Homo sapiens: one gene and its partners. The gene in region 3 interacts genetically with the main gene of each other region. Each region holds a gene or a part of one and is shown on either strand. Other genes may lie near its edges. The genes, in order: SPPL3, RIT1, PSMD14, EGFR and KRAS.

Region 1 (6,535 bases), on a different chromosome or scaffold from region 3:
AATTTTTGCCAAGATGTTCTTTAAAAAGTGCCAAGATATCCAGGCGCAGTGTCTCCCACCTGTAATTCCAGCACTTTGGGAGGCCAAGGTAGGCAGATCACTTGAGGTTGGGAGTTCAAGATCAGCTTGACCAACATGGAGAAACCCTATCTACTAAAAATACAAAATCAGCCAGGTGTGGTGGCGCATGCCTCTAATTCCAGCTACTACTGAGGCTGAGGCAGGAGAATCGCTTGAACCCAGGAGGCAGAGGCTGCAGTGAGCCGAGATCGTGCCATTGCACTCCAGCCTGGGCAACAAGAGCGAAACTCCGTCTCAAAAAAAAAAAAAGTGCCAAGATAGAGAGGGCAAATACCTCTTCACCTCCTATATATGGGGCAAGTACCTTTTTTCGGTGACCCTCACCATAGCCTCAGAATCCCTCTGAACATAGAGCTATTATCAGAGGAAGCTCTACAGATGAAATCATTTTGATATCCATGTAGAAAGAGCATAAAGAGACCCGCAAGTCAGGTGAGCAGCAATGGGTCAGATAAGGTTTCTTTACAAGAGAAGGTGGGTTTGACTTAGTGAATGTGGATTGGTGGAGAAGTCGTCATTTCAGGTTAGGGGAACATATAATAACAGGCACAGAGATCACGACCTATAGAACAGGGTAAGGTCGCCACCTAAGAGAGAGGAAATGCTAGAGATCTAATTAAAAGGTAGATCAAATATTGATTGGAGGACCATGGATGTTAAATTGAAAAGAGATCACTTATTGTGTATCTTAGTTTCTCCAGTTATTATAGCACGCTGTCAACCTAGTTGTATTTGCCCAGTTTTCACCGGGCACAGACCCAGTCACATGGGTTTCATTGTCCCTGGCAGTGCCAAAGTGGGCATGATAAAGACGGTAAGTCGACTCATTTAAATATAATGAGTCTTTTCTTAAATTTATGACATGGATCCTTGTATGATATAAAATTCCATACCAGTAGTTATTACTAGTGCAAGGAACCACATAAAACCTGGTGCAAAATCTGATTTTTAGATTAAATTATTACATAGCAGCTTATCTTCTGTCAACATTTTAAGCCAAATCAGTTTATACTCCTGAAACTCTTTTTAAAAGTCCTGTATTATGTAGCACATATGCAAGTGATGTTCTTAAACCAAATTATAAATCTGCTGTACATTGCATCACAGAAACCTAAAGAAATCTACCTATATTATTATGTCTAAGTTTACCTCAAAAACAAACAAAAACAAGAAATGGTTGTGCCAGTCCGTACAGTGGAAAGAAGTTACCTGGTAATACAGCTCTTTTTTTTTTTTTTTTTTTTTTTTTTTGAGACGGAGTCTTGCTCTGTCATTCAGGCTGGAGTGCAATGACGTGATCTCAGCTCACTGCAACCTCTGTCACCTGGGTTCAGGCAATTCTCCAGCCTCAGCCCCTGGGGTAGCTGGGATTACAGGCGCTCGCCACCATGCCTGGCTAATTTTTGTATTTTTAGTAGAGATGGGGTTTCACAGTGTTGGCCAGGCTGGTCTCAAACTCCTGATCTCAAGTGATCCATCCACTTCGGCCTTCCAAAGTGCTGGGATTATAGGCATGAGCCACTGCACCCAGCCAACATAAGCTTTTTTATTTTTTGTTCATGAAGCACAGTCTAAAGAGTGGTAGAATACTTCTTTTTTAAATGCTTTTTTTCTTTTTTTTTTTGAGACAGAGTCTCACTGTCACCCAGGCTGGAGTGCAGAGGTGCAGTCTCTGCTGACTGCATCCTCCGCCTCCCGGGTTCAAGTGATTCTCCTGCCTCTGCCTCCCGAGTAGCTGGGATTACAGGCACCCACCACCACACCTGGCTAATTTTTGTATTTTTAGTAGAGATGGGGTTTCACCATGTTGCCCTGGCTGGTCTTGAACTCCTGACCTCAAGTGATCCTCCAGTGTTGGCCTCCCAAAGTGCTGGGATTATAGGCATGAGCCACTGCACCCAACCTAAATGGTCTTTCTTAACTCTGCCAGCTATGTTGTACTAAATTATCCTTGACAACATTTCTTCAGTGCCTGCTCTGAGCAGTGGATGCCAATAGGATAAGGACAGATTAGCATAGACTGCAAAATTCACTTCCTCAAAGAAGAACATAATGAAGAAGCCATTACAAAGACGGCCGACCAGTACTTGATTATGGAATATAAAATTATTACAGATTGAAAGGATGACATGGAAAACAGGATGAATTTATCAAGAATCAAAGAAATAATAGCCAGAAAGATGAACAGAGAAACAGAGAGGTGTAGGTGCTAAGGAGATGGAAGTCCTGGATGATTAACAATGTGGAACAACTGGGGAGAAGGTTTTGAGAAAAAGAAAGTATAAATTTAGTGTTAAGATTTTGTCAGGAGTGTTTCAGACTGATTGAAGGAGACAGTAATCAGAAGTTTTTAAAAGATTGTAGCTGCCCACTCCCAAAATAATAAGAAACAAGGAATTTGTAAAGAGATAGGAGAGCAGGAGAAGTTGTAGGTGTAGCCAGCATCATTGGTGGGGTACGTGGGTGAAGGGTTACTCTTACGATTACATGCTTTGAATATGTCAGAAATGATTTGACTGTCCTTGATTATAATAGGAGCTAGGAGAAGGAGAAGCATTAAGTGAGACTCAACAGAGGGTTAGATGGGCCATGTGACTCATGCCCCAAAAAATCAGAACTTAAAAATGGAGAAATCAGTTTGTAATTGAAAGTTTCTCGCTGCAGGGTGCCCTAGGGTATTTGACCAAAAGACTGGGTAATTATTACTTCAGATTATAATAATGTTCCACCTATCTGGGCAACTCGAAACACATGGAAGTAAGAGGAAGAGTTGATCAGGCCTGCCAGGAACTATGGCACTCAACTCATTAGAAAGCAGAAAAGTAAAAGTGAAGACAGTAATGAAAAAGCACTACATGCCCACCACCAGAATAGCTAAAATTAAAAACCTTGACCATTCCCAGTGCTGATGAGGATGCACAGCAACAGCAAAGAGCCCTCTTGCGTTACTGGAGAGCATGCGTTAGCACAGTCACTTTGGAAGGCAGTTTGACATTTTACCTACTAAAGGTGACAGTATAAATACCCTTGGACCCAGCAGTGTCACTCCTAGTTATATATCCAGCAAATACAGTCACATGTGCATCAAGTCATGTGCAAGAGTGCCTAGAGCAGCAGCATTTGTAATAACCAAAAAATTGGAAACAACCCAAATGTCAACCGTAGAATGGATAAATTTTACTGTATTCATACAGTGAAAACAAGTGAACTGCTGTAGCTACATAAAACAGCATGGATAATTCTCACAAATCATATTGAGTCAAAGAAGCCAGACACAAAAAAATAACTACATAACTCAATGCATATAAAATTTAGGAAACAGGCAAACTAGTATTTAAGGATGCGTGCTTGGGTGGAAAACGTGTCATAAAAGTCAGGATAGCGGTTCCCTTCAGGAGAATGAGAGAGAGAGAGAAAGTAGTGATTGAGAGGGACACAAAGGAAGATTTCTGGGGTTGGTTTGTTTCTTGACTTGAGTGGTATTAAATATGTAATAATTCATTTTTGTGCTTTTCTGGGTGTGATGCTTCACCATAAAAAAGGTTAGAAAGTGACAGGAGTGAGGGTGGAGGGCAAGAGTTCCCTCCAGGTCCTCTGATTTCCCCTGACCTTGTTCTAACTTCTCTGCCTGCCCCCAAGAAGCCAATATAGAAATTTATTTTCCCATGGCACATCAGTCCTTCATTTAAGTAGTATTAAGTGGAATTTTAAAAAGCCATGTACACCCCTGCCCAATTATCTGACATCTTAAAGACTTTTACTAAACTTCAGTTATAATTTATTTGAGTTATAAAGATTGATGGAGATGTATAGTTGGGATCCTCATCTTTAGTAGAGGTATACATCTTAATCTTCTTGCTTAGATTGTAAACTTCATGAGATCTGGAAATGACTTTCTTTTAATCCCTCCTGTTGCTTACTATATAATAAGTGTTCAGCAAATAGTCAAAAGCATCGTTCTTACAGGGAGGTGTAAAATCAGTAATTTTCTTAATAGTTATTGGTTTTATTGCTCAGTGTCTATTCCATACCAGACGTACATTTAGCCTGTAGCCATGTTCATTGAATGTTAAAAATGATGTTGCTGTACAAAATTTTTAATTCCATTACCAAGCCTATTTCCTATGTTGATTTTTGCCTTAAAGATAATGCAACTGCACTTGCATATGTCCTCCTAATTATGGCTAGTCTGTTTTGCTTTGCTCAGTTTTGCTTTGTTTTTAAGTTACTGGAGTTTGGCTAAAATTTCTAATTAATTACCTCTTTCTTTCCCATTCAAGACCTTTATCTCCAGAACTTTAGGAAATGGAGTACTGAAGTCATGGACATTGTTTTAGGTAGCATATTGTCAGGAACTAAAGGCGCTTTACTTGCCCTGTGACATCGCCTCCTGGTTCAAAAATCTGTGGTTTAAAAAAAAAAAAATCTGTGCATTCTATCTAATACGCCAGAAAGGTCCTTTGTATTCAGTTTCGCATGTAATTGCAGACTGAACTTTTAAAATTTAGCTTTATTATAAACAAATGCATCTCTTATATACCTCACCACTACAGTCTTTATTCTAGCTAGCCATTTAATTTTCTCTTCATACTTTGAATCAGTATAATCTGTCTATAGACTCCCTGATGCTTTGTTCCTATGATAAAGTTATTTATCTGAGAAACATTATTTTCTGTAGTGAAAGGCACTGAAAATCTGTAGCTTCCTCTAGCTGTTCTTTGAACTACTGTAGAGCACTTACATTTAAAAACTATTTAGGTAAAATTTAGTTAGAGATTTCATAGAGTTTTGTCTAATGGATACACTTCCCGAAGTGATCCTTGGGCCAAGCTGAATGGATTTGACTAGGGTCAGGACAGACTGCTTCCAAGATAATTTCTGTTTGTCATGACACATAGTTCACTTTTCCTAAATTGAATTGTCCTATTCCTAAGTGAATTACTTCACTCATCTGCCTAGTCCCTGAGAAGCATTTTGTTTTATAGATTTAGTCAATCAAAAACCCTAAATAACTCTTTTGGGGACAGGCAAATTTAAATACCTAAGAGAAATTTTGTTGATCATTGTAACCCTTTGTGTCTTGCTATGTTTATCCTGGTTACATATTTTATTTGTAGCCTTAATATAATGAAGAGACCTTTCCTTTTTTTTTTTTTTTTTTGCCTTGGACTCCTGGGCTCAAGTGATCCTCCCACTTCAGCCTCCCAAGTAGCTGGAACTACAGGCTCAAGATAACATGCCTAATTTTTTTTTTTTTTTTAATTTTCTGTAGAGATAGGGTCTCCTTAGTTTGCCCAGGCTGGTCTTGAACTCCTGGCCTCAAGTGATCCTCCTGCCTCAGCCTTTCAAAGTGCTGGGATTACAGGCATGAGCCACCACACCCAGCCTTTTTCTTCTATTATTTCATTATTATAGATCATATGAAGATTTCTTTGATTCCTTTTGTGCGCTTTTATGACATCTCAATAGAGTTAATTTGGAAGTGAGACAAGATAAAACTGGTAATTTTTTTTTTCATTCAGTGGTTATTAGAGTTTGCCATGTTTTCCTTCTCTACCAAAAATACTCTATTAATGGTTCTCAACCCTAGATGCAAAATACAGTTTTGTGAGGAGCTTTTAGCTGGGCCTAACTCCTGTGATTTCATTTAATTTGTCTGGGATTGGACCTGGGCTTTGTAATTTTTTTAAAGCTCTAATGGGAAGCCAAGAATTGAGAACCCTTGCGCTAAATCCTACTCTAGCCCAAGAGATTATTTTCCCGTATTCATCTCCTATTCTGGTACCTTAAAATGTTCCCATAAAATAAATTTTTTTTTTTGTAAATATTAATAGATAGAAACGGGGGTCTCGCTGTGTTGCCCAGGCTGGTCTTGAACTCCTGGTCCCAAGCCATCCTTCCACTTCAGCCTCCCAAAGTCCTGGGATTACAGGCGTGAGCTACCACATCTGGCCAAATAAAATTTTTCTGATTTGCTGTTTTCAGCTATGACTTGTTGTCCTCCTTCTCCCCCATCAGCCAAGTCAGTTCTCAACTATTAGCAACAACGAGAAAGAGTGAAAATGAGTACCTTAAACCCACAGGTGATGAGAAGTCCTTTTAGTCAATGGGTTTAAACCACCTCTTTTACCAAACCTATATTCAAGACCACAAATTTACCCAAATGGACTAATCTGGGTTTTTACTACCTCTTAATGTTCTCGGTGGTGGTTTGGATCCTGTCATCCAGATGGTTAACACCAGGAGGTAGTAGTTCACTTCAACAAATATTCCTGAGTGTCTGCTGTAATGAAAGGCACCATGAAGAGAACAAGGAGCTCATAATCTCGTTGGGAAAGAAAGACTCATAGGGCCTGGATAATCCATGTCCTACGTATAATCCGTAGAACTGTCTGCATTTTTGCAAGTTAATGTATATGAAGTGCATAGGCACAGTGCCTGGTGCATAATAAGT
Region 2 (3,500 bases), on a different chromosome or scaffold from region 3:
ATTTAGCTGGGGCCAGGAGCGGTGGCTCACGCCTGTAATCCCAACACTTTGGGAGGCTGAGGCAGGTGGATCACTTGAGGTCTGGGGTTCGAGACCAACCTGGTCAACATGGCAAAACCCTGTCTCCACTTAAAAAAAACTAGCTGGGCATGGTGTTGGGCACCTGTAATCCCAGTTACTCGTGAGGCTGAGGCAGGAGAATCGCTTAAACCTGGGAGGCGGAGGTTACAGTGAGCCAAGATCGCGGCACTGCACTCCAGGTGTCACACTCCAGCCTGGGTGACAGAGCCAGACTCTGTCTCAAAAAAAGAAAAAAAAATTAGTTGGATGTGGTGGTATACACCTGTGGTCCCAGCTACTCAGGAGGCTAAGGTAAGAGGATCACTTGAGCCCAGGAGGTCAAGGCTGCGGTAAGCCATGTTTGCGCCACTGCACTCCAGCCTCAGTGACAGAGCAAGACCCTGTCTCAAGAAAAAAAAAAGTTGGGTGCGGTGGCTCATGCCTGTAATCCCAGCACTTTGGGAGGCTGAAGCAGGCAGGCAGATCACCTGAGGTCAGGAGTTCAAGACCAGCATGGCCAACACGGTGAAACCCCATCTCTACTAAAATAAGAAAGAAACACTAAACAATACAACCATGAAACTGATCACCGGGATTGCAAATCTAATTGGGAAAAGAGTTGAGCAAACAGCTTGGACTGTTTGGAGTTGTTGCCTTACTTTTTAATATGTATTTATAAAGTATTCCAGCAAAAGAGGATGTAGCCTCTGGGAAAAAACAAACATGTTACAGTGTTTTTTGTAGATTCTCGTTCTATATCTCATCACAGTGCCAGCCCTGTTTTTAGCCGGAAAGGATTCAGGAGAAACATTATTATGCATTCTGAACTGGATGCATATTCCTAACTACTGTATTTGTTACCAAAAGTGGTTCTACAAATGCTACTGAAAAAAATCTGGAAATTCCTAATGTCCTGAGTATTAATAATAAAGTTTAAAAATGCTTTTATATCAAAAAAAAAAAAAAGAAAAGAAAAATTAGCTGGGCATGGTGGCAGGCGCCTGTAATCCCAGCTACTTGGGAGGCTGAGGCAGGAGAATTGCTTGAACCCAGGAGGCAGAGGTTGCAGTGAGCCAACATCATGCCACTGCACTCCAGCCTGGGTGATAAGAGTGAAACTCTGTCTAAAAAACAACACAAAACAAAAAAACGCTGGGTGTGGTGGCTCACATCTATAATCCCAGCACTTTGGGAGGCCAAGGTAGGTGGATCACCTGATGTCAGGACTTCAAGACCAGCCCGGCCAACATGGTGAAACCCCGTCTCTACTAAAATACAAAAATTAGCTGGATGTGGTGGCAGGCACATGTAATCCTAGCTACTCAGGAGGCTGAGGCAGGAGAATCGCTTGAACTCAGGAGTCAGAGAGGTTGCAGTGAGCCTAGATTGCGCCACTGCACTCCAGCCTGGGCAACAGAGTGAGACTCTGTCTCAAAACAACAAAATTAAAATAAAAATTAAAAAAAAAGAAAGCTGGGCGCGGTGGCTCACGCCTGTAATCCCAGCACTTTGGGAGGCCGAGGTGGGAAGATCATGAGGTCAGGAGTTTGAGACCAGCCTGACCAACATGGTGAAACCCCGTCTCTACTTAAAAATACAAAAATTAGGCCGGGCGCGGTGGCTCATGCCTGTAATCCCAGCACTTTGGGAGGCCGAGGCAGGCTGATCACGAGGTCAGGAGATCGAGACCATCCTGGCTAACACGGTGAAACCCCATCTCACTAAAAATACAAAAAATTAGCCAGGCATGGTGGCGGACACCTGTAGTCCCAGCTACTCGGGAGGCTGAGGCAGAAGAATGGCATGAACCTGGGAGGCAGAGCTTGCAGTGAGCAGAGATCGTGCCACTGCACGCCAGCCTGGGCGACAGACAAGACTCCGTCTCAAAAAAAAATTAGCCGGGCGTGGTGGCATGCGCCTGTAATCCCAGCTACTCAGGAGGCTAAGGCAGGAGACTCACTTGAACCCAGGAGGAGGAGGTTGCAGTGAGCCGAGATTGTGCCACTGCACTCCAGCCAAGGCAACAGAGTGAGACTCTGTCTCAAAAAAAAAAAAAAAAAAAAAAGAAAGAAACACAAAGGGAGGGAAAGAGATATATGCTTACACTAAAATATTGAAAACTATTAGGAGCCCATAATTGATACATCTAATTATGGATATGCCATAATTTCTACTTTTGGACAGCTAGATTGTTTCTCATTTTCTTCTACCATAAATAGTCTTGCAATGAACATGTTATATATAAATCCCTATAAATTTTTTCCAATGGAGATTAACAGAGAAGCATTATGAATTTGACTACTATCAAACTACTTCCAGCCAGGCGCTGTGGCTCACACTTGTAATCCCAACACTTTGGGAGGCCAAGGCAGGAGGATCACTTGAGTCCAGGTGTTCAAGATCAGCCTGGGCAACATAGTGAGATCCTGTCTCCACAAAAAGTAAAAACAATTAGCTGGGAGTGGTGGCACACGCCTGTGGTCCCAGCTACCCTCAAAGCTGAACTGGGATGATTGCTTGAGCTGGGGAGGTAGAGGCTGCAGTAAGCTGTAGCCCCAACCTCACTGCAACCTCCACCTCCCCAGGTCAAGGGATCCTCCCACCTCAGCCTCCCAACTAGCTGGGACCACATGTGCATGCACCACTATGCCCAGCTATGTTTTTTTGTATTTTTTGTAGAGATGGGGTTTCGCCATGTTGCTCAGGCTGGTCTCAAACTCCTGACCTTAAGCAACCTGCCCACCTTGGCCCCGCAAAGTACTGGTGTGAGCCACCTCACCCAGCCTGATTTTCTATTTTAAGGCAAAAAAATCTGTAAGCCAAGCCAAGAATCTGTAAGCCAAGAAACAAAAATGACTAATTGTATAAGATTATAGACAGTATTTTCTTCTCTATCCTCACCTGTCTTAGCTGTTTGAGGTCTGACTTGTTTCCCACAAGAACCACAGGTGTATCGTCAGTACGTCGGACTCGATAAATAAGCTGTTTAAACTCACGAACTTCATGGAAACTTCGACGATCCGTGATAGAGTAACAGATGATAAACCCTTCTCCTGCCCTCATATACTGGTCCCGCATGGCTGTAAACTCTGCCTAGAGGGAAACAAGGGTCATTATGTATTGACGCAATCTAGCCCAACTACACACACAATTAGCTATTTCTTTCAGATTAAAGAAAACGCATGTCGATTACCTGCTATCCTGAGTCAGAGTGCATGAAAAATTAAGAGAGATAAACTATTGATCTTCTCTGTGTAGGCCTTCCCCTCCCCTTTGCTAGAGTAAAAAAGCCTTTACTCATAACATTCTGGGATTTAATACCTGTCCAGCTGTATCCAAAATGTCCAGATTGGCAGGCTCATCATCAATACGGATCCTGATCTTATAAGCATCTTCTACAGGAGGGAAGAAAGGTGTACTATAAAGTCATAAATGCCGGA
Region 3 (5,828 bases):
TCTTTTTGTGGTAAATGCTGTGTTGGCATTTCTTAAGGTTAGTGATCCTTAAATTTTCTTGTTTTTTTTTCCATTTATCAGATGCTATGAATAAATCATAGATTAAAAGTTCACCTGATACAGAGTCTTGTCTTCAGGCCATAACATACCCAAACTGTTAAGATTTCTTACGTGTGAAATTCTCAATAAAGAGGTTTTATATTGGTGCCATTATTGGGAGAGGAGGGCAGTAGTGGTAGCCAATCTAAATGTTATAATTATTTCAGAATTACTCTGCCAGAAAGTTATGATCATACATAGAAGAGTTTGTAGCTAACTTTGAAAGTAGTGGAAAGTGGTTTTCATGTATTGTTTGGGTTAATTTAATTTTGATTATATTTGGTTTTTAGTTCAGGTAATTTTTTTGTTGAAAACTTCAAATGACAATTTCTTCATGGTTACTAAAGATCACTCATGTGGAGTAGTTTCAGATTTTTTTCTGAATACATGTATTACTTTTAGAGATGTAAAGATGTGAAATTACTAAGAGAGAAACCCATGTGATTTGTTTAGTGGATCAAAAGTCGGTAGCTCCTTTGATCCTAAGTGCCACTGATAGTTAAATAGATACTGAAGCTATGGGCAGGCTGGATTGATAAGAAAAAAGGAGACAGAGAAATGGGAAATTGGGAAAGAACTGTGCAAATAGGAAAAGGAGAGAGCAACAGAACAGAATTAGTACCACAGTGCCGTAAGTGCCACCTCAGGTACTTCCATCTCCCATCTCCTGAAGAATTCAGTAACAGTTTGCAAATGGTCAACACAATCATTTAGTGATCCTGTTTGATATTTTCAATACTTTCTGTGTATTTCTTGTCTGTTTTCAAAATGATGATGCTGATAGTTTTTATTGCCCTGAAGGTTATTCTGAAGTTTAGCATAATTTTATTTGTTCAGTAAATTATTTGAATAAAAGTTGTATGAATGAAAATTCTGGTCATCATTATTTTTGGTGATTATCCTGCAGTGGGAATAGAGGATTTATAATTTTAAACTCTGTCCTTTGTGTTTCATTCACAGGCTGTAGAAGAAGAAGATAAGATGACACCTGAACAGCTGGCAATAAAGAATGTTGGCAAGCAGGTGAGGTGTACTGTTAATAAGTTATGCAGTTGCATAATAACATGTTCTTATAGAGTTAAAACTGTTTTAGGGCCTATATAATTTTTTTCCTGTCCACTCTATGTTTTTCTTCTGTCATGTAAATGTGATACTAATTGTAAAGGTCACTAAATTTATTTGATGTCAGGTTCTCTATAGAGAAGTAAATCACAAATACCTAAGAGATATTATCGTCAGTGAAAATAATTTACTAGGAACAAATTAGGACACTTGTATCCTGAATTAATTTTTTAAGTATTATTTTTACCTACAGATAAATAAGATAATAGAAGGGTAGATTTATTTCATGTGTAACAAGTTTTGTTAATCATGTACTTTATCAATATGTAGGTAATATTCCTGAGAAAGGTTAGAGCCTTATTGGGTTATACTGAGTGAAGAGAAAGGGCTTTAAGTATTTGCTCTTTCACTTTTCTAAGAAGAAATATATATTTTAGTCTCTATTATCTGAGGGTGGGGGAAGACACCAACCAATTAAAGGAATCTACAGATTAATTAGACTGTTTTTTAAAGAATGTTGATTACATTTTTTCCCCATTTCATGGAACATGGTTATCATATTGCTGATGTTGGCAGAATCTTGATATTTCAGATGCAAGACACTAAGCTGTCTTTGCTTTCAGCCATCCTACCATATGCTCTGATCCCATCACATCTCACAAGCTATGTAGGTTTGGGCCAGGACCATTCTTGGATGGGAAATCTCTAAGAATCACCCAGCTGCCACAAGAAGTAATGTAGATAACTGAGGGAAGCGTGTTACCAATTCACTATAAAATGAATTACTCCAACAGAGCAGTAGGGGCAAAGGTCTGACTTTATCATATGTCATAAATGAGAAAATCAAATTTCACTACCTTCTAAGTATTACAGTTTAAAAACAAGTACCCTCAAAAAGCAAAATGAAATACAGTTCATTTTATTTTCTCATCTTATGTGATATCACCCTTGTTATCTTTTCCACTACTTATTTTAATCATAATACTAGATCACCAACTTGGAGCCTTATACTTTATAGAATTCAGTAACTGTTTTTTGAATAAATGCCTTTCCAAGGCCATAGTTTCTTGATACAGATTTAAAGCAGCAAATAAAAGGTCTAAATACAAAATGAAACTGAAAAATATGTAATTGGCAAAGTTTAATAATCATCAGAATCATTTTTAAAAATATAGTTATTACCTCACTGGTTTGGCCTACTGCATGGCAAAAGCAAAACTGTCTGTAATGGAATTAAACCAATATCTTTTTTTCTCCTGCCAGTGTTTCTCAGTGTTTTTCACCTAAAATGCCCTAAGACTTATTTCTGAAATAAAAAATATATTGTAGTCTAGTCACTTAATTATTTGTAACATGTTGTATCTCTGGGTTGTTTAAAAAAAAATAGTGTATTAAAATAAGGGTTAGAAAAGCATGGCCAAGAAATAATTCCAATAATGAACATTTGTTTAAAGTTAGGAGTCTTGGGTATTTTAACAATAATCGTAAGAATATAATCATTTAAATTATAATTTTTCTATTGTGTATAATATATATTCCTTATTTCAAAGCTCTGAAATTTTGCTCAAATACTTAATTCTGCCTAAAACATAAATACATACTAAGCATTTTAATTTAAATTAGTTTATTACAATACAATTTTAAGCCTCCTTTTTAACTCAGTCTATTTCAAAAATAGATTTGATCAGGTTTAAGTTAAAGGATTGCACCTGTATAATTTGCTATGATACATTTTTTTCAAAATAGCTACATGAAACATTCTTAACATTTTAGAATTGATCCAAATTGTATTTAAATTCTTCAACTACAAACGGCAGCTTTTGATCCAAGAATATTTTCTGAATCATTTAAAGCACTACTCTTGAAATATTAAAATTGTACAGAATTCTGATTTTTGCTATTATAAAACATAGAAGAAGTGCTGAGAATTCACACTGAACTCTTACCCTTTGGTATGTCCGCTTTGAATTAAGCATTCTCTCAGACATTCAAGATATATGAACGGTAGAGAATATACACATATATTCAGACAGGTATACATATATAAATGAAATTTTTTAAAAAATCAGATGATTGTGAGCTGTATAGAATTCCTTGTTACTCTTTATAAAAATCTCTGGTACATAGTCATTGCATTGTATAAATCAAGCTTTCATTGTGTAATCTATTATTTTATTAGCTACTTAACTTTTTGATTTAGAAATTCTAAGAATGTAACAATATACTAGTAAAGTTAAATTGTAAAATATTTAAGTAAGGTCTGGCTTTCTTTACTAGTTTCATCAGCTACTGAAAAAAATTTAAGTAATTTATCTACCAGTAATATGGTTCTGTTTTCTCTTTCCTCATTTTTGTTCTTTTAGGACCCCAAACGTCATTTGGAGGAACATGTGGATGTACTTATGACCTCAAATATTGTCCAGTGTTTAGCAGCTATGTTGGATACTGTCGTATTTAAATAAAGCAACGAAAAACGCTATTAATGATGCCTTCAGTGTATATTCCTCTGTTGTTCCTAATGCTCAAAATCAAGGGACCTCTGAAGGTGTACTTGGCTAAATGTAAGACATCTGGCATCATTTGCAGCACTGTAACACCTTCAGTCTCAGTTGTGCAATTACTTCTGTTTCTTTAGTCAGGGTCTTTGCAGATTCTAAAGTTATACATGAATACATCAAAGTGGACAAATTTTGTTAAGATCCCATTTAATATTTGAAAAAATCAGTAGCACAAATATATTTTGATTGTCACTTACAAAATAAAATACATTTACAGTCTATGCCTCCTGAGATCTTTTTGGCAATGGGTGGGATTGATGGAATAACATTTGACAGTGGTCTAGAAATCTCACACAAAGATATGTTTCCGTTTGCATTTTAAGATCTTACAACACATAAAACATCAGTGTGATAAAACTTCACAGATGTATAATGATTTCCATTAATGAGTGGCTACCTAATTAGTGAGTAACTCAGAAAAAATGTTGACATTTTATTAGCATTTGTCATAAGCTAAATATTGTATACTCACTATCTTATAAACATACTTTTAGGATTTTGGAAGAGTACATTTACAAAGAAAAGGGAGCAATTTTAATTTAGACTTTATCATGTTTTAAAAGAGTACATTTCTACCAACAGTTTTGAAACTGGGAATTGGCTGCTGCAAACTCTACTGGACTTTCATCTAAAATAGCCACAGAAAGTATATGTCTAAAAAGCAAAATGAGAAAAGTAGTCATAATGTGAGTTTAATATAAGCTTATAAGCAATAATTTTGCTATTGTTTGGTCTCATCTTTTCTAAATTAGGACTACCCAGTTTTCTAATAGAGAAAAAAAAATGGCTAATACCAACTTCTAATGTGATGTACAAAAGTAACTGCCCCTGTTATTACTTACGGTTCAGAACCATACTGATTATACCATTTGTATGGCAAAAGATACAGAGACAAAGATCTAATTCTAGTCTGCACCCTTGTGAAAATATGGTGAGAGTATTACTGTAGCTTCATTAAAGGAATGTTTTACATGGACTTGCAATTTAACTTAACCTACTAGAACTGTTATGAGTGCTGTGATAGATCAAATTACTGTCCTACTGGAACAAGTCTAGGCTCTTATTGGTTCCCTAGTGAAGTTACCAGAAACTGAAAGTCAAAATGGCTTAAATTCCCAGTATGTTTCACAGTATCTTTTTTGGTGGAGTAAGAAGTATTCTGAGCATTTCTTGCTTGTCCTGTGGTTTACTGTTTCAGATATAGTGACAGTATATTTTATGTAGGACATGTAATATGTATTAATTTAAGTTGTTGGGATTACATTTAACCATTTAAAATTCAAATATAAGTGGAAGTTAGTGAAATTTTCTTTTGCCTAATTCAAACTTGTGTGCAGGCTTTTTGGATATGATTTTTCCCTTTGCAAATAAGATTCTATAACTTATTTCACAGATGTTGTTAATGAGTGCTAGTCAATGATTTTTTGGGGGGTACAGTGCCCTCAGAAGAAGGCCTTAACATTTCAAGAACTATTCTCAATATTTGGGTTGAAAGGGTTTTTTTGTTTTTGTTTTTGTTTTCTACTTAGTCCTCTGAAAATATCCTGAGTCCTGTGACTGGAAAGGCTTACCTTGCCTGTTTTTTTGCCCTTATTTGATCACCCCATCTTCCTGGACTCCCTATAGCCACACACCACTTACTCTCACTTAGTTCATGTTGGTGACATTCCCAGTTTCAGAACCTTGTCAAAATCTTTGCTAGCAAAAACCTACATTACTTTTTGTAGATTTGGAGTCGATCAAAATCAAGATGCCCTAAGAGGCAAGGCTCAGTGAACACCTTTGTCTTGGAATGTACAGCTATTTTCGCAGCAGCCTGATGTCCCAGGCCCAGTTAGGCACTGAAAAGATGCATTTAATCACAAACTTAGTAAGCTGTTTAAGACTGTATATGTATGCGCGCACATGTGCACGCAATTACCCCTCCATCATGCAGAGGTAAAGCAGCTCTGGAAACAAAACTGTTTGTCTCTAGTGCAGAAATGTCCCTGCTTTTCTCTCAGACTAATACGGGGGCACTGAAAGCTCCGGCCTCACTATTCAAAGTGTCATCTGCCTGGACCAATAGCATCTGGGTCTTATGGAAATTCGTTATATATACAGAAAGCA
Region 4 (6,535 bases), on a different chromosome or scaffold from region 3:
CCTGTGCATCCCCACCCAGCCTCCTGGCTGCTCGGCCCTTGATGCTGGGTTTTGGGAAGCTGTTCTCTCCTCTTTGGTAGCATCATCTGCTTCATCAACAGGTTTGCTTTTTCTCAGGTGTTGAGTTCAAATCCCCTAACTCTACTTTTACAGCTAGAACTGAGAAAACTATCTGTACTCATTTATCTGTTTAAGCGTTTAGACACAGAACCTGGGTTTTCTATAATGTGCCACATAACGATGTTCACATGGTCCCATATGATTATAATACCACGTTTTCACTGTGTCTTTTTAACATTTAGCTATGTTTATATACACAGATCCTTACCATTGTACTGCAGTTGCCTGCAGTATTCAGTACAGTCCCAGGCTGTACAGATCATTAGCCTAGGAACAACAGACTACGCCGTATCACTTAGGCTTGTGCTGGGCTGTGCCATCTAGATGTGTGAAGTACACTCTGTGATGCTCGCACGGTGATGACATCTCCTAATGATGCATTTCTCAGAACATGCTCCTGTGGTAAGGAAGCCTGACTGCAGTCTGAGCTCGGACTCCCTAGAACCCTCCCCTGCCACACCGTGGCTATTCCCGATGTGCAGGTAGTGGCTTCATTACATTAAACACGGCAGTGAGAGCTCCTGCCATGAAAGTTCTGGGTGGAGGGTGGGACCACCCACATGTAAGAGAGGTTGGCGGTGAGTGGGGCAGCTGAATGGGAGGCCCCTTGCCCATGCTGGGACCCACTTAATTCCTCTGATTTTTAGCAGAATCAGGGCAAACTTCTAATTATTTTGGTACTCTGAAGAAATAAAACCTGGGCTTGCCATAGAAAAATCTGTTCCATCAGGGAATTCCCTCTTGGCTCTGTGAAGGAGAAAAACTATGAAGAGATCTTTGGAATGAGGGGTCTCAAGGGCACTGGAAGGCTCTGGCATGTGAAGAGCTTGAGTTGGAATGCATCTGAGAGCCCGAGGGGCTGGCCCAGACACAGGAGGAAGCCTCCGAGCTGGCTTGGATTTTTTTTCCATTAAAAAGTTCTCTGGTTCCTGAGGTGCGATGGTGATGGTGGGAGAGGCTGGTTAGCGACAGGGGGGGCTCTCTGAACTTTCTGCTTAGTTTTGCTGTGAACCTAAAACTGCTCTAAAAATAATTTATTGATTTTTTAAAAAAGTTATCAGGAAAGAACACCTACAGTTGGTTAGATATGATTAATAACTAGTACCAACATGGCATTGTTAACAAAGAATACATTATTATTATTATAAGGTACTCAGGAGTAAAGAACAATGAATAATATACATCTAATTTTTTAATACTCAATGCACAATCAACATTTCTGATCAACAGTATAAACCATATAAAAGAGAATTCTGCTTTTCATTTGTACAAATACTGCTTTCATCATTGCAAAACTTTCAAGGTTAAAACGTACCATATGTTGAAGCTATAAAGCTATTGCTTGAATGTTTCTAAAACGAAGTTATTGCTGTCTGTTGTTAATCGGTTACATTGTCACCTCTAATACCAGTCATCAAATCCATAGGATCTCTTAATTTCCAAGAGATTGTATTGTACAGCAAGATTATTTTTGTGGCCAAATCAGGTCATAGGATTCCTTTTTTTTTAAAGATAAGTAAATGCATCCAGAAATGTATGCACAGATTTAAGTTTTCCCCATAGTTTTATCTGCTAGGTGATAGGGTGGAGCTTCTTAGTGCTTCTGCTGGGAATTCAGATAGGACAGACTTGCAGCCTCAGAGGACACACTGCAGGTAGTGCAGAGAGACATGGAAGGAAAACACACTGCCTGCTACATAGTTTTTATCCCAGGTATAATTTGTGAGGAATGTATAACAAATGTTTCTTAAAGCATGAATCCTCTTCTTGAATTCTTGTTTTTATGAAAGCCATCCAACTACTTACTCAATCCTCTTGAAATCTGCCTTTTGTAATGTAACTGATAGGCCAGCGTTTTCTTTCACTGTGGGAAATAAAGGCTACTTGGTTGCTTTAGGGAGGGCAACAATGTCAGCTGCATAAGCAGCAAGAATATTATATTTTATTACTAGTCCACCCTTAATAAAGAGAGAAACCTTAGGAAATGGAAAGAGGTGTCTGTTTTATATTTCCTTTGCTTTTCAACCATTGTTTAGACACTCTCCCTTCTAGTGCTTGGAGAACCTTCATGGAAACTCTGTTCAGGTTCTTGACTCTCAGCGACAGATGTGGAGGTCTTTGTGTCTTAGCTCTCTAGGCCTGAGAATCACATACACCTGCAGAATTTGCCTCCAAGTCCATGTCCTTGTGGCTAATCCCTAGGCCAGTAGTTCTCAACTTTGGCCGCACATTGGAATGACCTCAGGAGCTTTAAAAACTACGAATGCTTGGGTTTCAGCCCCAGAGATTTGCGTTTAATCGGTCTGAGGTGTAGCTGGGCTTCAAGCTTTTAAAAGCTCCTCAGGTGATGTCACTGCAGCCAGGGCTGAATAACTTCTCTAGGGTGGCTGGGCCCAGGCTTGGTAAGACTGTTGGTGAACTAACCAAAGTGTGCTGAACATTATTAGGCTCTCCAGACATGTCTAGTTTATACTGGTAAATGCATATCAATTGTAAATATAAAAATAAAATTTGCATTGAAGTCACATTATATATATAAACCAACAAAGTGCTATGTTATTGCTTTTCTTACATGTACAGGGTTACACTGGCAGATGATGAGAGTATGGCATGCAACTGGATTTTTCTAGTAGTAACAACAGTGAGCCCTTTCCATTAACACTGCCCCAACAGAACCTGCCTCAGACCAAGCTAAATGTGCTTTCCATCATCTTTTAAAATTTCCTAAATATAAAAACGATGCTTCTCTTCTTCACCATGACAATGACCTAGCTTAGCTCCCCAATGAGGTTGTGCCTTTTTATAAGAGAGAGAAAGGGCTTTCCTCTTGCCTCAACTTAACCCTTTTAAACAAAGATTTCAGTTTCAAATTTTGATTCTATTGCAGTCTCTCTAAAGTAAACTGTGTTTGTTTTAGTAGAAAAATGAGTTTCTAAAAATATATTGTACAAAGTTCAGTGCTACATAAAGAGAACTATATCCCGCAACAAAGTTACAAAAATAGATTTACATTTAAAAATCCTGTCTGTGTCTTCAATAGTACAAAGCTGTACCCCTGGTATGGCAGGTGTGGCTGGTGAAAGAGGCAAGGATTTCTGTTCTGTAAGGTTTTACAGCCCCCAGGCAAGGAAATGTGAGCAGATCATTATGTTGCAATAAAAGTGTGTGCTTATCACAAGAAAGAAATGCAGAGTAGACATTGAGGGCAATTTCAACAGGTGTTGCCTACGTGGAATAGCAGCTCACTCACAAAGGAGGGAAGAGACTGGTTTCTATAACTTACTTAGAGAATGCAGAGGGTCCCAGGGCGTTTTCAAAGCTCAGGTGGGGGTATTTGCCCCTTTCCAGCTGAACTGCTGGTGAGGATGAATTGAACGCTTTTGAAATGAGCCAAGTCTCAGGCTTATCAGTGACTGCAGATTGTTCTCTCCACTGCACATGGGAATCTCTACCCTACCCAGCCTTTTATTCTACTCTGACGGGGGCTCTGGTACAGACCCACAGTCTTGTACAACTGAAGACCCTAGAAATAAGGGTTTCAACCCTGGTTGCCCATTAGAATCATGAAAGAGCCCCCGAGATTTGGGTTGAATTGGTCTGCAGAGACTCCAGGCCCCTTCTTTTGAAGCTCCACAGATGATTCTTTTCTGCCTGAGGGGAGGTGCTGAGTTCCCATCACCCACCAGCTTCATCCTACACAAGTGCAATCAGAGGCCTAGTGAGAGTGGCACTGGGGGGTGGCCCCCCAGCGAGTGCCAAGTAGATCCCACCAGGCCCTTCCTTTAGGCCAGAGGTTCTAGAAACTTTGATGAATGTTGCAATAACCAGGGGGTGCTCTGAAAAGGCCCTACGGCTGGGCTGCACCTGAGAAAATCAAGCCACAGTCTTTCTGGTTGGGACCAGAAGATTCCCAAGGGCAGCCGCCCTTGAGAACCAGTGCCTTTCCTGCTAAGCAATCCATAGTCCCCTTATGTCTGCAGTTGTGAGGCAGGGGTGGTAAGTCACAACATCAAGAACTTTCAGCAAACACCTAAGCTTTGGTGTCATCAGCTGGAGTGCAATAGGATGCATCCACAGTGCTCCCCCTTACAACCTGGACTCACAGCGAATATAGAGTTTAGAAGACTCATCCCTTCTCTGATCCCTCATGGGGTGACGGGCATGGTGTAATTAGAGGAGCTCCTTAGAGATGATGCAAGAAGATGCACGAAGGCTGGCGGCACCTATGAATGTGAGCTCTCAGCTCCTTACTTTCCTTCGACCTCTGTTTCCAAAGACCACATCTGAAGCTGGGGTCATGGGGTAAGGTCTTCCAGGAACTGACTGAGGAAGAAACAGCCAATGGACAGGCTTTCTGTAGGGTATTAAGGCCAGGCTATCAATCAGGAAGACCTTCAGGGATGGAGTCCAAGCTTTGAGTACTGACTGATCAGGGCTGTTAGGTGAAAATCATGGGACTTTGGGCAGCTCCTCTCCTGACCTGCCCATCACAGTCGCCAGATCCGTGAAGAGGCTAAGGGCTTTGCGGCTTCTACCAGACAGAACTGTGCCTCCCTGGACAGATGAAGTGAGAACTATTTTGGGAAGCACAATCTTAAAATTAATAGAATTTAGCAACTAAACTTTATGGTGGAAAATTAAAATATGAAGAAGAAAGCTAGAATAGCTTTTGCTCTTTTATTAAGTTACTGTTTCAAACTACAAAAATACTAGAATTTAATGCTACAATGTGACTCACTTACAACTGACCTGCCTCATCGATCATCTGCTTCTTGACACATAAGTGACAGCAGAATGTAGGTCCTTCTGTTTCCCAGTTCTGACTGAAATATTTCTGCATGTCCTGAGGTGAATGAATAATGAAAGTGGTTAACTGACAATATAAAATCTCAGATTCTTAGAAATGTTGTGTAGTCTTCTCACTAAGCATGTGCAGAGATGATAGCTCAAAATCCCCCTGGGGGCTGCAACTTTTAGGGAACTTGTGGGATGCTCCAAGCTCATCCCCTGGCTTAGAGGGAGCAGGTTGTTTAGGGTGACTGACCTCAGCCTTATGTGGACTTTAGCAGTGGAGGCCTCTGGCAGCTGTTTCCTCGGTCAGGGTGCCCCTGATGCACCTGCACTTTCCACCTCCCCGCTGACTGAGACCTGGTCATCCTCCTGTGAGGCCTCCCTTCCAGGTCTCCTCAGGCAGGACCCAACCTCCCTGCTCTGTGCTCTCACAGTGCCTGGCTGATGGGTCCTGTCTGGCATTTGTCACGTTGTTTTAAGGTTAGCATCTATGAGTCCATTTCCTTTGCTAAATTGTGAATTTCTTAGAATCAGGGACTATGTTTTATTTATCTTTGTATCTTTCATACCCATACCAGGCTAGTATAGATGCTTAGGGGTATTTGAGAGCATAATAGAGTGGAAATGAATATAGTTTTATTTTCATTGAGACAAAAATCAAATACTTTCTTAACAATGCTGTAGGGGCTCTGACTGATCTGGGAGTCAAAAATTACTTTAAAAGCAAAAGGAACATTTTGTATGTGTGTGTGACTGAACATAACTGTAGGCTGAAAATATTTTCTGAACCATTTCTTCCTTGATAAATTGGATGGGGTGGATATTGACTAGGAGAGTTTAAAACACTGTTTACAAAGGACTGCTGTTAACCAGTCAGGTTACAGGGCACACACAGATTAGGAAAAAAGGTGGGCTCCTAACTAGCTGAATCTTCCAATCTTCCAATTGTAGAGAAATTATTTTAGGAAGGAACTTTTTTCCTTCTAAAACATCTGCAAATGTTGTGAAAGCATTATCAATTTCAAACCCTAGTTTCATATTTACTACCTGAATTCCACACTACTCATAATGCTACTGTCATTCGCACCTGTAAAATGCCCTGTTGTGGCCAGAGCTGTAAGTGCTTGAATAGATGACTCAAGGCAGAGACACTTTTTGTGTGACAAAGCGTAAGGAGGGGGTTTGGGGGCAGCTGACCTGGAGGGAACATATACTCTTTGAGTAAAAAGCTTTTGAAGTGAAGTAAAAGGAGAAAACTATCTTCCATAAGTAACACAAACTAATTTTGGGGGGTTGGGGTGATGGCTAAAGGAGATTTCAGAGCAGCTTCATTTTTGTAGTCTTCTGATCTATGCCCCAAAGGACCTGATGCATTTCATCTGAGCCTCAAATTAGGAGATACGTTTTTGCGAGAACAAAAGCGGTGCTATCCTTAGGTATTCCACATTCTCAGCTGTGGGCTATTGGTCCAAATGCTGATGAATCCAATGTGGGCTGGAATCCGAGTTATTATTTGATGTGTCATCCTCTCTTGCTGATTTCATGACAGCAAGACAGGGGCAGCATACTGAGTTTCAAAACAATGGAATGGAAGACAAACAAGTCAGTCTAACGCTCATGACTG
Region 5 (6,535 bases), on a different chromosome or scaffold from region 3:
CATACAATTTCAAGAGGAAATCCCCGAGTAATACATTATTGACATTTTCAGCAGTTCTAGTTATATTGAGAAGAGCATCTCATGGAATTGGCAGAATGAAGATGGAGATTAAATGAGATGATGTTTGTAATATGCTTATGACAGTATCTGGCATATAAGTAAGGGCTCAGTAAATGTTGACTGCTGTAATTACTATTAATAGTAATATGATTACCTTTAGTAAAAGTTATTAGTTTCTTTAGGTTTTTTGTTTACTACAATATAGTAAACAAAATCTATACTTGGAATGTATATATTGTTTTGTTTTGATACATGGAATATGTCTCTGTGTCAGAGTCACTGCCTGAGTTGGAAAACCCATACTCGAGTATGTTAAAAGGTGAACACACTGAATAATTTAGTTATTAATTATAATGGAAAAATGACAAACTTGATGTTCTGGTTAATGAGGTTATCTTATCTTGAATGAGTTAGCTTTTAAATTCCTCAAAATAAAGGCATTTAATAAACCAGGAAACACTTCATTAAAAAAATTATGCAAGTCAGTGTAAAAGAAGATTAAAATTCCACATGGGCAAAGGACACACGTTGGCGATAAATATGCAGATAAGAAAAAAAACCTATATAACATTATTACTCCTCAAAGAAATTGGTATGAAAACAATAAAAATGTGTAGCTTATCAAACCAACAAAAATTTAAAAATATGAAATCCATTTTAAGTAATGATAAAATGGGTGCACTCTTAGTGCTTTATAGAATAGTAGTATAATGAACCTCATGTGTGTACCAACCAGCTCTTTCATATCTTAACATTTAGCAACATTTGATTTAGCTCTTTCTTTTTTCCAAGATAGAAAAGTTAATATTGTTGAAGACTCCTGCATTCTTTTCCCTAGTCTTATTTTCTTCCCTCCCATAAATGTGTTAAAATCTCTGTGTGTATTGTTTTGGTTGTATTTTTACATAAAACTTTACATATTATATAAAATTTAATTGAAGGTAAAATTTATTAAATTATTCTTAATATATATTGTAATTTAAAAATTAACAGCTTCATTGTCTTGATAAAATTTATGGTATCTTAAACATGTGCTTGTTTTTCTAAGAGAACATTGAAACATAGATTTTAAAACAAATTGTTGAAAGATTAAAAAATCTGCCTTTGCACACTGTTACATTGAAAGTGGGGCATTTGTCGTGAACATTCATTTCAAATATGTAGTATCTTCAGAATATTTGAGAAGGATTTGTATTATATAATTGAAAAATCTGTTAAATTGTATTTATGTTAACTGCTTAATTCTAATAAAATTTCCATTCATTTTTTAGTATCTGCATATATTTACATCAAATGGATTCATTCACTTATTTAAGAGGCAGTACTAATTACCTATAGCGTTCAAGACTGTTAGGTAGAGGGTGTGTAGTGGTGAGTACAACAGGCGTGAGCCCTACCAACACGGAGTTTAAAGCCTAGTAGAGGATATAGACTTAAACAATTTCACAAGTAAATACATAATTACAAATTATAATACATGCTATGAAGGAAACATAGGAGGTACCAGAGAAGGAAGAGTGCTTTGCATTTTTATTTTTAAGACCGAAGAGTGCTATTGGAGGACTTTGAGCAAGTGAATGACATGATCTAACCTACCTTCGTTCATTCATTCATTCATTCATTTTCTTCCTTCCTGGCTCAAGCAGTCCTCCCACCTGAGCTCCCCAAATAGCTGGGACTACAGGTACACACTACCACACCTAATTTTTTTTTGTATTTTTTGTATTTTTGATGGGATTTTACCATGTTGGCCAGGCTGGTCTTGAACTCTTGACCTCAGGTGATCCACCTGTCTCGGCCTCCCAAGGTGTTGGGATTATAGGTGCCTAGCCCATGGTGCCTAGCCCTAACCTACATTTATAAACTATCACTTGCTGCTGTGTGGAGACTATATTGTGAGATTAACAGCAGGGATACCTGCTAGGAAGCAATTGCTGCAGATTGCCTGAGACAAAATAGTTATCATGGACTAGGGGGATGGTGGTGGTGGTGGTGGTAGGTGGTTGGATGTAGGATATATTTTGAAGATAGGTAAATGGTGCAAGATTATGGGTCAGTTTTAAATGCTTAAGTAAATTTTCTTTGTAAGACATTTTAGGATGCCATGTTAAGAATCTCTTTATAACTGTCATTTAAAAAAAAACCACATATTTTCTTAGCATAATTTCCCATAGTAACATTACTATGTCAAAGGCTATGAACATTTGAATGACTTTAGATAAATACTGTAATTGCTTTCCAAAAATATTGTGCTTATTATGTCACCAGAAATGTTTGAATTCTGTCTACAATTCAGTCTTGCCAGTATAGTACATTTCATTTAGAAAAATTTTTTACTATGTAGATGGAAAAAATAATATTTTAGCTGGGAGTGGGGGGACTATGGGGAATAACTTTCCTTCATTTAATATTTTATTGTGAGTTAGTTTAAGTTACTTTATTTTATCGTAGTTTCCTAAGGCTACAAATTAGTAACCTTGGTAACTTATGTACCTAATTTAAAAGTTTACTTTTTTGAAAGGCTGGAAATACTAATTAAAAACGTAACACCTTCATCCTTGTCTTTGCTCCATTATTAACTAGTTTCATTACAGAATCTCTGTGTTTTAAAATCAGATGGGTTTTCATAACCAGTACTTTCTCAGAGTGGTAAATTTAAAAAAATATATAAAGAGAATAAATAATATTTGTTGAGAATACTTCAAATAATGTGAAGAGTTATTAACTTACAGCAGGAGTTGGCAAACTTTTCTATAAAGGGCCATATGGGTCTTTGTCACAAAGTCTTGGGTTTTTGTTTTTGTTTTTTTAAACAGCTATTTAACTATTCCTAGCTAATGGGCAATACAAAAACAGTGGGCAAGATTTGGCCTGTGGGCAGTAGCTTGCTGAAACCTTATTTAGACTCTAAATTTTTTGAAAGAGTCTACATTGATGCATATTTTTTTTTCTTCCTCCAAATACAGTTGACCCTTGAACAACATGCGTTTGAGTGACCATGGGTCCACTTGTGATACACGTTTTTTTCCCAACCAAATGCAGATATGGAGGGCTGACTTTTCATATACCTGGATGTTCCTGGGCCAACTGTAGGACTAGAGGCTGGGGGGGTCTTGGAACCAATGCCGTGTGTATACCAGGGATGACTGTTTCTTATGGCCTGACCTGAAGTTGGAACAGAATCTTTATTAATATATAATTTTTGTTGCGTTTGTTTTCTCTTTATATTTATCCATTCTTTTTAGATCGTATTTCATTTAACACTTTTTCTTCTTTAGTTTTTACCAAGTTGCACTGAAAATAGCTCAGTGACTAATTGCACTTCTAAGAGTGAGGACCCTAGTTAAAATTAACTCTAAAAATACTGAATTTTTAACCTAAACCTTTTATTTCTAATCAACAGTATTATTTATGAGTAGGTTATAGATTACTTTGAAACGGAATGTGTCTCAGAACTTTGCTATCGATATTTTTAAGGTCTGGTAGGGAAAAGATAATAGGAATGAGATTTATCAGTGAATAGGGGACTGCTTTCCCAGTTTCTCGGTCGCACTGGTGTATTCACCATGGAAGCATCTTATGAAATATGTACATAAACTACTAATATCCCACATTACAGGTTGACTATTCTTTATCTGAAATGCTTAGGACCTAGAAGTATTTTTGGATTTTGGTTTTTCAGAGTAGGGATACTCAGCCTACATTGGTAAGTAAAGAATGTGAGGTGACAGGCTGGGCGCGATGGTTGACGCCTGTAATCCCAGCACTTTGGGAGGCCGAGGCGGATCACCTGAGGTCAGGAGTTGAAGACCAGCCTGGCCAATCTGTACTAAAAATACAAAAATTAGCTGGACACAGTGGCACGTGCCAGTAGTCCCAGCTACTCAGGAGGCTGAGGTAGGAGAATCGCTTGAACCTGGGAGGCGGAGGTTGCAGTGACTCGAGATCGTGTCACTGCCCTCCAGCCTAGGCAACAGAGCAAGACTCCATCTCAAAAAAAAAAAAAAAAAAAAAAAAAAAGAATGTGAGGTGGCAGCAATAGGTAGGAAGAGTCTTTGGTCAGCTTTACATGCTCTGTAGCCATGCCTGGGTAATGGGTTGACTCTAAGACTCTGTGCTTTGCTCCCACCTCCTGCTTTTTCATTACTCTTTAGAATGGTTTTTAATTTGTGATCTATAGGAGTTCTTTCAAGTATTTAATAAGAGAATAGGCTAAATTAAGTAAATGTCAACTGAATGCTCAAATCTCTACTAAAGAGCCTCTTATTTAGAAAATAAATATCCATCTTTTTTTTCTGACTGGTGAGATAATTAATTTTTATTACAGATGGTTTGGAAAATACCATATGCTTTAAAAGATAAGCACAAAATTATAGTCTAATATGTAGGTTTTCATACTTTAAAAAATTGAAAACCAAAGAAAAACATTTAACATAGCATCTAGTACAAAGAAAAGAGATAAGCAAGAGATAAATGTCTTTTTTGGGACAGAGTTTTGCTGTTGTTGCCCAGGCTGGAGTGCAATGGCACAATCTCAGCTCACCGTAACCTCCACCTCCCGGGTTCAAGTGATTCTCCTGCCTCAGCCTCCCGAGTAGCTGGGATTACAGTCATGCACCACCAGGCCCAGGTAATTTTGTATGTTTAGTAGAGATGGGGTTTCTCCGTGTTGGTCAGGCTGATCTCAAACTCCCGACCTCAGGTGATCTGCCCACCTTGGCCTCCCAAAGTGCTGGGATTACAGACATGAGCCATCGCACCCGGCCAAGATAAATGTCTTTTAAATTATCTCCATTAAAGACATAACCTTTATAACATTTTGATGTATATATTACCAGTTTTTAAACACATAGTAGATTTGTATAAATACATAAACACATATTATTGTGATCATGCTGCACTTAGACATCTTTATATTCTCCTTATACTGTAAACATTTTGAAATACTTTACTAACAACATTTGTAATGACCATTCTTTCTCTCTTTCTCCCTCTGATAGAATGGTCTACAGAGTAATTCATAAACTAAACATACTTTAGAGGCTGGGCGCAGTGGCTCATGCCTGTAATCCCAGCACTTTGAGAGGCTGAGGCGTGCAGATCACGAGGTCAGGAGTTAGAGACCAGCCTGACTAACATGGTGAAACCCCATCTCTACTAAAAAAACAGTACAAAAATTAGCCGGGCGTGGTGGCGTGCACCTAGAATCCCAGCTACTCAAGAGGCTGAGGCAGGAGAATCACTCGAGCCCAGGAGGCAGAGGTTGTAGTGAGCCGAGATTGCACCACAGCACTCCAGCCTGGGCGACAGAGCGAGACTCCATCTCAAAAAAAAAAAAAAAAGATACATTAATACTATAGCCTACATGTGGAACATTAAGAAAATAATTGCTTTTATGTTTATGCTTTATACCTGTTGTTAGCCCTGCTTCTTATTTCATGATTTCATGGCTTCACATTGTAACATCCCTTTACCATATTTTTTGAGGACTGTTTTGGCAGAATGTGTGAAATCTTGAGCAGAAGTATTACCCAAAAGTCAGAAGAAAATCAGATTTTTATTTCAAGATTCTGTTAAAGTTACCCACTCCCTTCTTTTACTTAATCTTATAGTTGCAGTTCTCTCTCTTTTTAGAAAAGAAAAAAGAGGCCCCTCAGGATTTGCAGATGAAACAATATTGCTCTTTAGAGATATCCATCTGGCTGTTAGATTATTTTTCCACAGTTTTCAGAAGTGGATGAGGCCATTAGAATCTTGAGTATTGCCCATTTCCTTATGTGTGCCTTTGACTATAGATAAAATAGATGCATGACAATTATTTATAAGTTGATTGATTTTTCTTGTCATTTAAATCATCTTGAATAATAGAGTTGGTAGAGCTATCCCATTTTTGAAATTATTTTGTTTTGTCAATAACTTTTTGTTACCAGCATGTACACTTGCATTGTTGACTCTCCATATAATACCTTTAAAAAATTTTTTTTTGTGGTAAAATATGCATAACATAAAGTTTACCATGGTAGTTTTCTTTCATTTGTTTTGTTTTTGTTTTTTTGAGACGGAGCCTTGCTCTGTTGCCAGGCTGGAGTGCAGTGGAGCGATCTTGGCTCACTGCAACCTCCGCCTCCCGGGTTCAAGCAATTCCCCTGCCTCAGCCTCCTGAGTAGCTGGGACTACAGGCGCCCGCCACCACGCCCGGCTAATATTTTGTATTTTAATAGAGATGGGGTTTCACCATGTTGGCCAGGATGTTCTTGATCTCCTGACCTCATGATCCGCCCACCTCGGCCTCCCAAAGTGTTGGGATTGCAAGTGTGAGCCACCGCGCCTAGACCATGGTAGTTAATTTTAAGTGTTCAATTCAGTGACCTTAAGTGTGTTCATAATGTTGTGCAACCATCACCATGTTGTCTAACCATTAGCACTATCTGTTTTGAGAACTTTTTTTTATCATCCCAAATTAGAATTCTGTACC

The links.
Region 1: changes in PSMD14 (region 3) and SPPL3 together harm fitness less than expected from each alone (positive genetic interaction), as found in Homo sapiens cells (one large-scale study listed by BioGRID).
Region 2: changes in PSMD14 (region 3) and RIT1 together harm fitness more than expected from each alone (negative genetic interaction), as found in Homo sapiens cells (one large-scale study listed by BioGRID).
Region 4: changes in PSMD14 (region 3) and EGFR together harm fitness more than expected from each alone (negative genetic interaction), as found in Homo sapiens cells (one large-scale study listed by BioGRID).
Region 5: changes in PSMD14 (region 3) and KRAS are lethal when combined (synthetic lethality), as found in Homo sapiens cells (2 studies listed by BioGRID, with this or other methods).

The regions. Positions count from the first base shown.
Region 1 is NC_000012.12:120,784,622-120,791,156, reverse strand, and holds part of SPPL3 (signal peptide peptidase-like 3), read left to right. Parts: intron 1-6,535.
Region 2 is NC_000001.11:155,901,350-155,904,849, forward strand, and holds part of RIT1 (GTP-binding protein Rit1), read right to left. Parts: intron 3,456-3,500; coding exon 3,382-3,455; intron 3,154-3,381; coding exon 2,962-3,153; intron 1-2,961.
Region 3 is NC_000002.12:161,407,778-161,413,605, forward strand, and holds the end of PSMD14 (26S proteasome non-ATPase regulatory subunit 14), read left to right. Parts: intron 1-1,059; coding exon 1,060-1,122; intron 1,123-3,524; coding exon 3,525-3,623; 3' UTR 3,624-3,940; downstream 3,941-5,828. UniProt on the Homo sapiens protein: Component of the 26S proteasome, a multiprotein complex involved in the ATP-dependent degradation of ubiquitinated proteins.
Region 4 is NC_000007.14:55,206,329-55,212,863, reverse strand, and holds the end of EGFR (epidermal growth factor receptor isoform a precursor), read right to left. Parts: 3' UTR 1,236-6,535; downstream 1-1,235. UniProt on the Homo sapiens protein: Receptor tyrosine kinase binding ligands of the EGF family and activating several signaling cascades to convert extracellular cues into appropriate cellular responses.
Region 5 is NC_000012.12:25,228,638-25,235,172, reverse strand, and holds part of KRAS (GTPase KRas), read left to right. Parts: intron 1-6,535. UniProt on the Homo sapiens protein: Ras proteins bind GDP/GTP and possess intrinsic GTPase activity. Plays an important role in the regulation of cell proliferation.